Homo sapiens: one gene and its partners. The gene in region 1 interacts genetically with each later gene. Each region holds a gene or a part of one and is shown on either strand. Other genes may lie near its edges. The genes, in order: TSPO, AGPAT1 and MAP3K10.

Evidence for each region.
Region 2: changes in TSPO (region 1) and AGPAT1 together harm fitness more than expected from each alone (negative genetic interaction), as found in Homo sapiens cells (one large-scale study listed by BioGRID).
Region 3: changes in TSPO (region 1) and MAP3K10 together harm fitness more than expected from each alone (negative genetic interaction), as found in Homo sapiens cells (one large-scale study listed by BioGRID).

What each region holds. Positions count from the first base shown.
Region 1 is NC_000022.11:43,154,486-43,158,129, reverse strand, and holds part of TSPO (translocator protein), read right to left. Parts: exon of another isoform or gene 2,192-3,644; intron 1-2,191. UniProt on the Homo sapiens protein: Can bind protoporphyrin IX and may play a role in the transport of porphyrins and heme. Promotes the transport of cholesterol across mitochondrial membranes and may play a role in lipid metabolism, but its precise physiological role is controversial.
Region 2 is NC_000006.12:32,173,141-32,177,413, forward strand, and holds the start of AGPAT1 (1-acyl-sn-glycerol-3-phosphate acyltransferase alpha isoform 1 precursor), read right to left. Parts: upstream 2,945-4,273; 5' UTR 2,674-2,944; intron 1-2,673. UniProt on the Homo sapiens protein: Converts 1-acyl-sn-glycerol-3-phosphate (lysophosphatidic acid or LPA) into 1,2-diacyl-sn-glycerol-3-phosphate (phosphatidic acid or PA) by incorporating an acyl moiety at the sn-2 position of the glycerol backbone.
Region 3 is NC_000019.10:40,211,794-40,215,437, reverse strand, and holds part of MAP3K10 (mitogen-activated protein kinase kinase kinase 10), read right to left. Parts: intron 2,634-3,644; coding exon 2,462-2,633; intron 2,363-2,461; coding exon 2,250-2,362; intron 2,050-2,249; coding exon of another isoform or gene 1,922-2,049; coding exon 1,217-1,921; intron 789-1,216; coding exon of another isoform or gene 772-788; exon of another isoform or gene 537-771; intron 469-536; coding exon 146-468; 3' UTR 1-145. UniProt on the Homo sapiens protein: Activates the JUN N-terminal pathway.

The DNA of each region.
Region 1 (3,644 bases):
TGTGCTGAACTTGGGCTTTGGCAGGGGCAAAGGGCAAAGGGCAAATCTGGCCCCAGGGAGAAGGGGCGGCTGCTGGCCTGGGATCCATGGAGCTGGGTGAGCACAGAAGCAACCTCAGTGCCCAGCAGCCAGGGACTATTAAAGACTGGCCCCCCACAAACCAAGCTTCTGAAGGCTTTCTAGTAACGAGAAAGTTGTTCTCAACATAACACGAAGAAAGCAGAATATAACATTGACTACAGAATGACCCCAATTTTGGCAAAAAATGGATAACATAGATATGCGCTTTTTTTGAGACAGAGTCTTGCTCTGTTGCCCAGGGTGGAATACAATGGCGCGATCTCAGCTCACTGTAACCTCTGCCTCCCAGGTTCAGGGGATTCTCCCGTCTCAGCCTCCTGCCTCCCAAGTAGCTGGGATTACCAGCATGTGCCACCATGCCGGGCTAATTTTTGTATTGTTAGTAGAGACAGGGTTTCACCATGTTGGCCGGGCTGGTCTCAAACTCCTGACCTGAGTTGATCTGCCTGCCTCAGCCTCCCAAAGTGCTGGGATTACAGGCGTGAGCCACCGCGCCCGGCACGTTTTAAAGGAACAGAGTGTCAGGCATCCAGCAGATTCCGGTGCTGCCACTTACTATGATTCCCTCCCCTCCCTGGACCTCAGTTTTCTCGCCTGTTGAATGGGGACAGTTACCCCATCCCCCAAGGTCGCTGCAAAAATGAGCAGTAAGGATGGACATTCTGGGGGGGTGGGCATGTGACCTATGTCCCGGCAAGAAACGTTCCTGTGTTCTCCCTCCCGCTCCCTCCTGCCCCGCCCCTCCCTCCTGCCCCGCCCCGCCCTCCTGCCCCGCCCTCCAGCTTCCAGGGTACACGTGCTCATGGGGTGGGGATGGGGGTCTGATGTCACTACACATATGAAAGGCCACCCTCCCTGGGGCAGGAGGTACTGCTGAGCACTGGCCCTGCACCACCGCCAAGTGGATATGGAGCTCTGGACCACAGCCCTGGGACCACCTCCCAGCTCAGCCTCCCACTACATCCTCTCAGGTAAGCCCAGGCCAGCTCAGCCTACTGCTCATCTGGGCAACCAAGACATAACCGCTGCTCTGCTGGAGCCTGCGTGAGTCCACAGCTGAGTGACATTGTGGGGGAACCATAAGGAGCCTCGTTCAGCCTCCACTGGAAACGAGCCGGACCAGGGTGCCTGTACGTGCCTTTTCCCAGGACACCCTCAGTTGAGGCCCACCTGCCCCACACTAATGGCCTGCTCTCACTCACAGGTGTCCCTGTCCAGGCGAGCAAGGTTAATACCACCAGCATAAGACACGTGGACATCCCGAACCCCTTGATACGACATGGAAGCTGGTGCGCTTTCAGTGATGTTCATGCCACAAATGGAAACCCCCAGTGCAGGCGTGAGCCACCGTGCCCAGCCTAAAATTAACCGTTTTAAAGTGCACCATTCAGCAGCATTTGTATATTCCCAATGTTGTGCAACCACCCTCTGTATCAAGTTCCAAAGCATTTTCAACCCCTAAAAGAAACCCCGTATCCATCAGCAGTGGTTCCCCTCCCCCTCCCTCCCACCCCTGGCCGCCAGCAATCTGACTTCTCTCTGGGGACTTGCCCATCCTGGACATTTGGTATCAATGGAATCACGCAGTGTGTGGCCCTCGTGTCTGGCTTCCTTCACTGAGCGCCATGTTCTAGAGGTCCTCACCTTGTAGCACGTGGCAGAACTCCCCACGATTCTGTCACCTGGCTCCAGCACCCAGCCAGGGCCAGGCACACACTCGGTCCCCAGGAAATCACAATGGGACTCACCCAGTGTTCCCACTGACAGGGCCTTAGAGACCACCATCCAGGTCCCCCGTTGTATGGAACGAATAAAAGTCACAGAGGCATGGTGGCTTTCCCAAGGCCACAGCAAGAGAGCAGGGTCTGAAGCCAGTTCTGAGTCCCGTGCTCACACTCCCACCCCAGGCTGCCCCCTTCTCAGGCCTGGCTGTGGTTATGACCCACAGGGCCAAGGGGCTCAGAGGGTCTGCCCCACCAGAAAACAGGCGGTCAGATGCCCCACAAGGAGAAAGCCTGGTCGGGGGCGGGGAGTTTCCTAGGGCCTCTGGGGAACTGCCCAGCTCCTGAATTGCCCAAATGGGGAACAGGTGGGCAGGGGCGGTACCCACCATGATGAGTCATGCTGAGCCAGGCTAGGCAGGATCCAGATATCTGCTCTGGGATGAGTCCAGGGAAAGCTGGGGTGGGCCAGGCCAGGGGGCACACATGGCAGGGACAGGACTCAGGCTCAGGCAGAGGGGTGAAGCCACCTATACACCCTTTATTTGTCTCCTTCAGAAAGCGAATCGGGATCCAGACCTCGGCTCTGCCTCCATCCAAGGCTCGTCTCTGGGCCTGGCTTCCTCCAACGTCAGGTGGGTAAACCCGCTGTGTCTGCTTCTTGGGGGGCTGGGGTAGCTCAAGGGAGGAAGGGGTGGGACAACAACGTTTCCCTGAAAACTCCAGAGAAGAGAGGGGTTGTGGGTATCAGTGTGGGGCCACTAGCCCCATTTCCTCCAGGGGAAGACAGGGCCTCAAGGCTTGGACCTGTGACGAGACCTTATCAGCCACGAGAGCCCCTGGACACTCCACAGGTGAAAATGCCCTGCACGGAGCAGCGCCCCCAAAACAGGGGCAAGATCGGGGCAGGGTAGAGGGCGCAGGACGTAGAGGCAGGAGAAGGTTCCAAGCCTTGCTCAGCTCTGGTTGTGCACAGGCCTCTGGTAGGCAGGGGCCTGCGTGGTGGAGTCCGTGCTCATCCCGACGGTCACCGCCTTGTTCAGTCCCCACAGCAGCCACAGGGGACCAGCTGCTTCTCCCTGAGCCACACGGCCCACTCGGCCTCCATGGTGGACTCGTGACTGGTCCCATTTTCCAGATGAGGAAACTGAGACATGAGAAGTCACAGAACTTTCTAGGTCCGAGTGACTCCAAAACCCACCCCACCCCTCCCTTTGAGCTGGGTGTCTGCCGGGCTGCTCTGGGCCGCGTGACCACTTGCCAGGAGTTGTGTCACCGCCCGTCTCAGCCTCCTTCCTCATCTGAAACAGGGCTCATAGAGCCTGCGGCGCCAGGATTGGACCCGCAGGCCACTCCACCCCACCTCTGAACGGTGCCAGAAGGTTCTCTCAGGGCCAGTAGCATCACTCTCTCCACCTGCCGCGGCAACATCCCAGCCCCCACAGAGCATCGGGCCCTGCAGAATCTGAGCCCTTCCCCACTGAGGGTGGGACCCAGGGTCTCCAGGTCTTGTGAGGCTTCACTCCTGGCCCGAAGACCCCAGACCCATCGCTGCCCCAAGGTATCTCATCTCCTGAGCCTCTGTGTCCCCATCTATGAGGTGGTGGTCGAGCCAGTGGGTTTCAGGGTGTCTTTCTGTTCTTGGAGACCTCCCTATAGGTGACCCAGAAGGCCAGGAACGGTGGCTCACACCTGTAATCTCAGCACTTTGGGAGGCTGAGGCAGGCAGATCACCTCAGGTCAGGAGTTCGAGACCAGCCTGGCCAACATGGTGAGACCCCGTCTCTACTAAAAATAAAAAACTAGCCTGGTGTGGTGGCGCACGTCTGTAATCCCAGCTAC
Region 2 (4,273 bases), on another chromosome or scaffold:
CACAGAACCTGTGTTCTAGGTTCTTCCTCCTTCCTCCACTCTGCCCCAGTGTTGGGGGCAGGGTAACAATTCACAAAAAGGGTGTTCAGGCAAATACCTGTCATTCCTACTGAGGCCACAGGCACTGTCTTCCCATGATGGGAAGGGCTATGCTCAAAGGTAAGCCTATTGCCAAGCGAGAAGGTAACAGGCAATAGAGGAAACAGGAGACCCTGCCAGTTGGAATACCGTAGGCTTTCTGAGCTGCTCCATCCCACTGCCCCTACAAGTTCAGAACAGCATCATTTCTCCCCTGAACTATGTGGAGTAGGCTCCCAACTCCCTCCAATCCATCTTCCACGTAGCAACCACAGAGATTTTTCTGTTAGCACAGATTTTTCTGAAACACAGAGCATTTCCCTGTCTTGCCTAAAGGCTCTTCTTGATAAGTTGACTTCTGCTTACATCTTCGACCACATCCTCACAAAACTCTTTGTTCCAGTCAAACTGATTCACTTCAGTTCCTCAGACACCATGATCTTTCATGCTTCCCCACCTTGAACATGCTGTTCCCTTTGGCTGGAATGCCTGTCTCTTCTCCTGCCTCACACAGCTCAGTGTCACCTTTTGGAGGGCTGCCTGAACCCCTCCAGGCCTGTGCTTTCCTTACACTTTTATCTTGATCAGCGGGTCTCGAAGTATAGAAATGCAAATTATTAGACTTCACCCCAGATCTACTGAATCAGAAATTCTGGGCATTAGGTCCAGCAATCTGTTTTTCTTTTTCTCACTCTGTCACTCAGGCTGGTTTTGAACTCCTGGACTCACGCGATCCTCCTGCCTCAGCCTTCCAAACTGTTGGGATTACAGGTGTGAGCCATCGTGGCTGGCTAGCAATCTGTATTTCAACAAGCCCTCTGGTGAGTCTGATGTGCGCCTGAATTTAAGAACCACTGATCTTGACAACACACTATGTGTTGACTGGCGTTTTTGTTTCCCTCCTTAGGCTGTAAGCAGCTTAAGGACAGGGACTCTGTCTTATCTCCAGTGCCAGGACAATAGGAGATGGAGTAGGTGCTCAATAAACACTTGCTGAACAGATTCTAAGGCTGTATACCCACCCATAGAGCCACAGTTAATGACAGAGATGGCGGTTCTGATCACAAATTAGATAGTTATCCTCTTGAGTAGAAGTGACTACTAAAAGAAGTCACTGAGAAAGTAACGAACACACCAAGCCTAATGGTAACCGACTCTGAATAGATACATGCAATACATAGCCATAATGAAGGCAGAGTAACAATAATCAGGAAGAGGTCATCTCACAAGAGAAATGTACCGAATGGGATCAAGATGCCACAGGGAAAGATGCTGCTCTCATCAAATGTGTGCCAACAGTGCAAAGAATGGAGGATAATGTCCATAAATAAATACCAACAATGGGGTTCACAGCAGGATTGACCCTGTGACATGCATTGAGCTCATGGACACAGACTGTACACAGCCACTGGAAAGATAATGTTTGTGTAGAGAGGTATGGGCCAGGGAGGTCACCAAGGTAAGGCATGCAGGGATGGTTCTTTGCAGACCTGGAGACCCAGTTACCTTCTTCTCTTAACACTTGATATTAAGTGACCCTCTTTGGAGAACAAAAGTCCAAGGATTTAGAAATGCAATGGAGGGCCAAATTTAATGAGCATACGGCTCACAAAATATACTGATGACAAATTTATAACACACATTCTATGGTCCTGTTACATCAGTGTATCATGCAAAGGCGCATACACATGTGTTCTGTGAACTGTGACTGGGAAAACACAGCAAACAGGCCAATTCAGTCAGACATCAGAGTGTGGGGTATTCAGCCAAGCCATGGGATCCCACACATGAAGACTACTGCAAATGGTAGGACCATGGACATGTCAGCCAAAGCAAAATAAGGTATATAACCTTCACATGCTGAAATAAACATGCCAAAACATAAAATGTGCAAGTAACATGAAATTATAGAACAGGTGCAATATATGAAAACTCACACACATGCGGTACTTAAAACATGTCAAAACTGGATGTGAGACATGGACACAAGAATGAAGAATGGGCAATTCTGATAGAAAATAACACACCATTTCTACACAGCCTATGGATAGCATTGGGACAACCTAGTTGCACACAAGCCATTAAACATGTCAAAGGCACACAGACTCAATGTAGAAAACATGGCTCCCATAAGGCATTTGTGTGTCAGTAAGGGTCTAGCAGTGTGGAAGGCCACTGAGAAACAAGAGGTCCTGTGCCTAGATGGAAACAGAGGCACCTAAGGGTATTCCTAAGAGGCAAATTCTGCTGGCCTTCTCCCCTCATGACCCTTCAAGAGTCATGTGGGGTCAAAGGGCAAGAAAAGGAATTGGGGAAGGTGTAGGGAATTCCCTCTCCAGGATTCCCTGTGCACGCTCCCAGTCCCAAATTCACAAGGGTTTCCATTTCTCCTCCCTCCCAGGTCTCTTCCATCCTTCCTCCCTCTCAGGTCCCCTCTCCTATCCCCAGCAACCCTCTTCCCAGTCGGCCCCTCTCCTTTCCCCAGCAACCCTCTCCCCCAGTCGGCCCTCCCAGACCCAATCTCTCCCCTTCCCCTCATCCTAGTCGCTTTCAGCACCCTCTTCCCTCCTCCTCCCATCCCTTTCCCGCCCACACCTCAGAGGGGTAGGGGGCCTGGGGGGCTGGCCCCCTCCCCAGCCAGGCTGCGGCAGCGGTGGTGGCGGATGGCTGTGTCTCTGTCTCTGTCGGGGTGTCGGTGCCAAGGGGGCGACGGGATTTGGGGGTGTCCTAGCCCCGGCCGATGGAGGGGAGGTGGGAGTGGGAGGTTGGGCCCATAGCGGTAGGAATGGTGGGGGGCTGTCCCCCCAGCACCCTCCCTCCCTCCCTTTCTGCTGTCTCTCTGAGGGCTGGGGCTGCTGCCGCCGCTATTCCCCCGCCACCCCTCCCCAACGCCTGCTGGTTTCCGGGGCCGGCCAGGAAGTGGAGGGCGGTGATGGGCAGCCTGTTTTGCCAATCGTCTCCCAGAAACTCTGGCATCTCCTCCCCACATCTACCAGTGTCCTCTTGCGAGCCCCGCCCCAGGGCTCTCCCTCGGTCTTTGCCCCCATCTCTGGCTCCAGCTGCATCTTTTTTTTCTCTAACTCCCTTTCAGCTCTGGATCCCCTGGTGCTGTATTCCTCCTTCCGCACATTCCTTCCTTTATTCTCCATCAGCTCTCTTTTAACTGCCACTTTTACTTGGTCTCTTTTTTTCTCAACTCCGGTTATCTGCTGCTTATTCCCCCCAACTATTCTTAAGGACCCCTTTTCCCGTACCCATTCAATTCTAAACATTTATCAAGCATCTACCTACCATATGACAAGCATTAAGTTCACCTCTCTTCTTTTTCTCTCCAGGACTCCATCTCACTCCATCTCACTCTCCAGTCCTCTGGTCTGGTTTCCTTTGCCCTTTGTCCCTCACTATCTCCCAGCAGTCCAGCTCCCCCCTCCACCTGCCTTCTCTGGCCTTTAAAGAGAAGAGATCTCTTTGGCCTTATCCCTGACCCTTTCCTTTTCCATGCTCTTTTACCTCTGTACCTTTTCTTTCCTACTTCCTTCGTATCAGTCTCCTTACTTGCCCAAGCTGAGACAACCCCTTCTCACAACATACAATATGGGTACATCTTTTCTTCCAATGGAAATTTGGCTTCAGGGGTGCTTTCTAGAAAAATAAAAAGTGAGGAAGAATGCCGATTCCTCTGGAATGCGCGTGCCTCCTTAATTTGGTAGCCATGTATCTAGTTTTCCACCCCCTCTTCTCTTCCTCCACTCCCATTATCCCTTTACTAGGATCATTCCATCACTTCACTCTCCTTCATTTCCACCTTTCCCTCTCAATATCTTCCTTCCTAAACCTCAAGCTTCCTGAATCCTCATCTGCCCCAGTCCTTCTTTACGCAACTGCTAACTTCTCATCTTTCCTTACTCTTGAGTCACATGGGATCTTTTATCAAGGTCCCCCCTCTAGCCACACCTTTACCCTGCATTAGTTTACATGCCCTCGGGAAGAGGATTGGTAGTGGGAGGACTGTTACCTAATTCTGCTCCTTTAGTCACAGTGAGGGTCAGTGATTGTAGGAAAAGCCCAAACTCCCCGGGGTCCAACCTGGGAAGAAGACCCTATTTCTGATGGGCAAATTATAAAGAGGAAAGGGCGGGTCTAGCCTCCGCGGGTCTCCTTAAAAGGGGCGGGCTTTGTCCCTTTTGCACCACTC
Region 3 (3,644 bases), on another chromosome or scaffold:
TTAAGTGTCCCCCCCCTCCCTCCTTCCCCAATAAATAGAGTGAACATCCTGCCCAGGGCCTCCCCCACCTTGTGGCATGGCGGGCTGGGGCAGGGCCTGGGGCGCTACATTCATGGCTGCCCAGGCGGGCGGTGGTGGGCAGGCCTTAGTGGGAGCCGTGGGCCCCGCACAGGGGCACTGTGCTGTCTTGGTTCTGCCCCTCCATGTCCATGTCCAGCAGTGTGGGCTGCACGCTGGGGGGCCCAGGGCTCTCCGGAGTGTCTGGCCTGCTGGGAGGCGAGATGGTGAGTGTCCGGCCGAAGGAGACCAGTTTCCAGGGGTCCAAGCGGGGGCGACTGGCAGCCGGCCGAGGTCTCGGGGCAAAGGTCAGGGTGGTGGGGCGGCCTGGGAACTCAGGGGGCCGGCGGCGGGCTGGGAACAGGGCCTGGGGGTCGGGCAGGCGGGGGAAGTCCAGAAGGTCACGAGGGCCTGGTAAGAGAGGTTCAGAGGAGGTGAGTGGGGTGGGGCAGAGGGTGGCATTAAAAAGCCCAGAGCTGTTACATGAAAAGCACAAGTTCTGGTTTCTCTCGAGAAATCCGTGGATCTTGCTGCATCCAGTTTCCATCTGTAGTGTGGCAGTGCTGGGACCTTGACCTAGACTGGGACCACTCCCAGCTGCTTGCTCCTCTGGGTGGACCCTGGCATGTTCCTCAACCTTCTGGAACTGCTGCTTAGCGGCAGCCTCGGGGGCCAAAGCCCTGGTCTTCCCGACTCTCCTGCACTGGGCTAAGCTCAGGCATGGCTTAGCTCTGAAGGGGGATAAAAATGGTGCCTCACCACGCAGGTGAGGAGCAAATAGAATAACCATAACTTAAAACAAGCAGCACAGTGCCTGACGTGGGTACTTAATAACACTGCTATGGCCGCATCTCCCACCCAGTTAACAGATGGAGGAGAACAGTGTCTAGGCTGTGTAAGAATTGGCGATGGTCATGCTGGTCACAACCGCTATAGGCACCTGCCTGGCCTTATAGGCATCAGTTTGCCGCCTGTGTCTCAGTCCCCTGGAGACCCCCGATGCCTCCAGGAGTGAGCGGTAAAGGGACACAGACCCTCCCTCCTCCACAAGAAGCAGGAGGTGGCTGCCTGAGGGGTCGTGGCTGGGCTGGACTTGCGACCCTGGCAGAGGAGGAAAGAAGGGGTTTTCTGTGACCTGGGTGCAGGGCGCCTCACTCACCAGGGCCATGGCCCGCGGGCTCGGGCGGCCCCCGCTGCCCCAGCGCCCCGTCCGATGGCGTCCGCCGGTGCCCGCGGCTCACAGCGCATGCAGCCGTGACGTGGGTGGGCGTGAGCGACTGGCGGGGGTCCTTCTTGAAGCTCTCCAGCTCCAGGTCCACCAGGGGGTTGGTGCTGGGCGAGGGCGTGGGTGTGGGCGCGGGCGGGGAGGGTGGTGGGGAGGGCGCGGCCGGTGCGGCCTCGTCACTGTCAGAGCGCAGCAGTGAACGCGTGGAGTTGCAGTCGGACACGGACGACAGCGACACGAGGGTGGCCGAGGGCGCCAGGCCCAGGCCGGGGCCCACGTCTTCGCGGCGGCCGTGGGGACGCGCGGGTGGGCTGAGGCCCCGCGGGAAGCGGCCGGCGCGGGGAAAGAAGAGGCCGTCGAGCCAGCGCCGCTGCTCCTCACCGTCGGCCGCGCGCGCCTCGGCCACGTCGGCGCCCAGGCCCACAGCCCCCAGCAGCGTGGCGCAGCCTAGCAGCGCCAGGTCGCAGCGCCGCCGGGCGCCGTGTCCCCACCGAGCGGGGGGCGCGGACGGCGTCGGCTCCCACGGCGCCCGCGCCCCCGGGGAGGGCTCGGCAGGCAGTGGCACTGAGAGGTAGGACGGGGTCGAGTAGGGGGAAGGGGGCACGCTGCTGCCTCCATCCTCTGCCTCCGCGAACTCCTCTGCAACCGGAGAGGGCCATCACTCCGCTGCAGGGCTGGCCAGGGCCCCACGGGGACTTGTGCCAAGGGACAGCCCCCGATGACCCCTCCAACAGCAAGACCAAGACCCACGAGCATCGTTCTTGAATCTGTCTCCAGGAGAAGCCTCAGAGAAGGGTGGTCCCTGCCCCTGGAAATGACCCCCCACGCCCCAGGGGCCACCATCTCCCTTCCCAGGAAGGCCTTCCACTCACTGGCCCAGTGAAACCTGGTCTCTTCGCTCAGCCCCAGGAGGCTCACCCCTTTGGCCAGGGAACCCCCACCCCCTTACAAGAACCCAGGCTCTTACCCATCTCATTGAGGCTGGCAAAGCCAGGGGCGATGGGTGTGTGTTTGGGGGACTTGCCCAGGTTGGGGGCACTTGATGACCACTGTTTGCTTCCTTCCCCCAGCCCCTTCAGCCTGCGGGGTCCAGGGAGAGATGGAGACCTCAGTCCTGTGGCCTGGAGCCTGGGAGCTGGGGCTTGGGCACAGGGTGGGCATGACCACACCACACCTCACCTCTCCTCTCCTCCCACCCGCTCCTTCTGCAGGGTGGAGCTGGGCCCCCACGTTCGTCCCTTCTTCTTGCCCCCGACCAGTTCTTCCTTCTTTGGGGGCCCACCGCGGCTCCATGTCCCACTTCCTCCACTGCTGCTGCCACTGCTGCTGCCACCACAGTCCACGGGAGTCACTGGGTCCAGAGAAGCCACTTGGTTACTGGGTGGAGGATCTGTCCCCACTGGGCTCCCAGCCTCCAGTGCCCCCAGCTCAGGCCCACCCTCCGCCTGGGAGTCCAAGGGCTCTTTTGAACTCCAGTCATGACCCTCCCTGCTATATATCTCCCCATAGCCCCCTACTGCTGTCAGGACAAGGTTCCAGCTCCTCCGCCTGGCACTGAAGGCCATGAGCGGTTCCCTGCCAACTCCTCCAGCCTCCCCTCCTCTTCACAGCCTAACCCTTCACCATTCATTCTGGCGGGCTGCCTGCGCTTCTGGTCTCCAGCTCTGGGTAGTTAGTTCCCTGGGGGTCAGCTGCCTTCATCTCTGTACCTGCAATGCTCTGGACCTATCTGGTGCCAGTGTTTGCTGCCATGGTATGGGTATTTGTCTCTGTGTCCCCTGCAGGACTGACCTCCTGGGCCTGGTACAAAGCAGGTGCCCAGACAGAGGGCAGGGGGGCTGTGGGTGGGGACAGTGCTGGGGTGAATGAGGTGTTGGAACTTGGGAGCTAGCCTTTCACCCTTCAACCCACCAGGAAACTCCGATGACCGTGTCTCTGCCATATAGCCCCGACTGTGGACATCTGTCCCTTCCAAGTCCCCCACCCTGGCCTGGCCTCCATCATCTCACTGCTTTCTCCACCTTTATTTCTTACAGCAGCCAGAGGGAAAAAGGTCAATTTGATTCCCTCAGTGCCTTGCTCGCATGGCTCTGGGGGCTGCCCCAGGGCAGTTAAAAGAAAATCCATACCAGGCCAGGTGCGGTGGCTCTTGCCTGGAATCCCAGCACTTTGGGAGGCCCAGGCAGAAGAATCACTTGAGGTCAGGAGTTGGAGACCAGCCTGGCCAACATGGTGAAAACCCCATCTCTACTAAAAATACAAAAATTAGCCAGGCATGGTGGTGCAGGCCTGTAGTCCCAGCTACTTGGGAGGCTGAGGCAGGAGAATCGCTTGAACCTGGGAGGCAGAGGTTGCAGTGAGT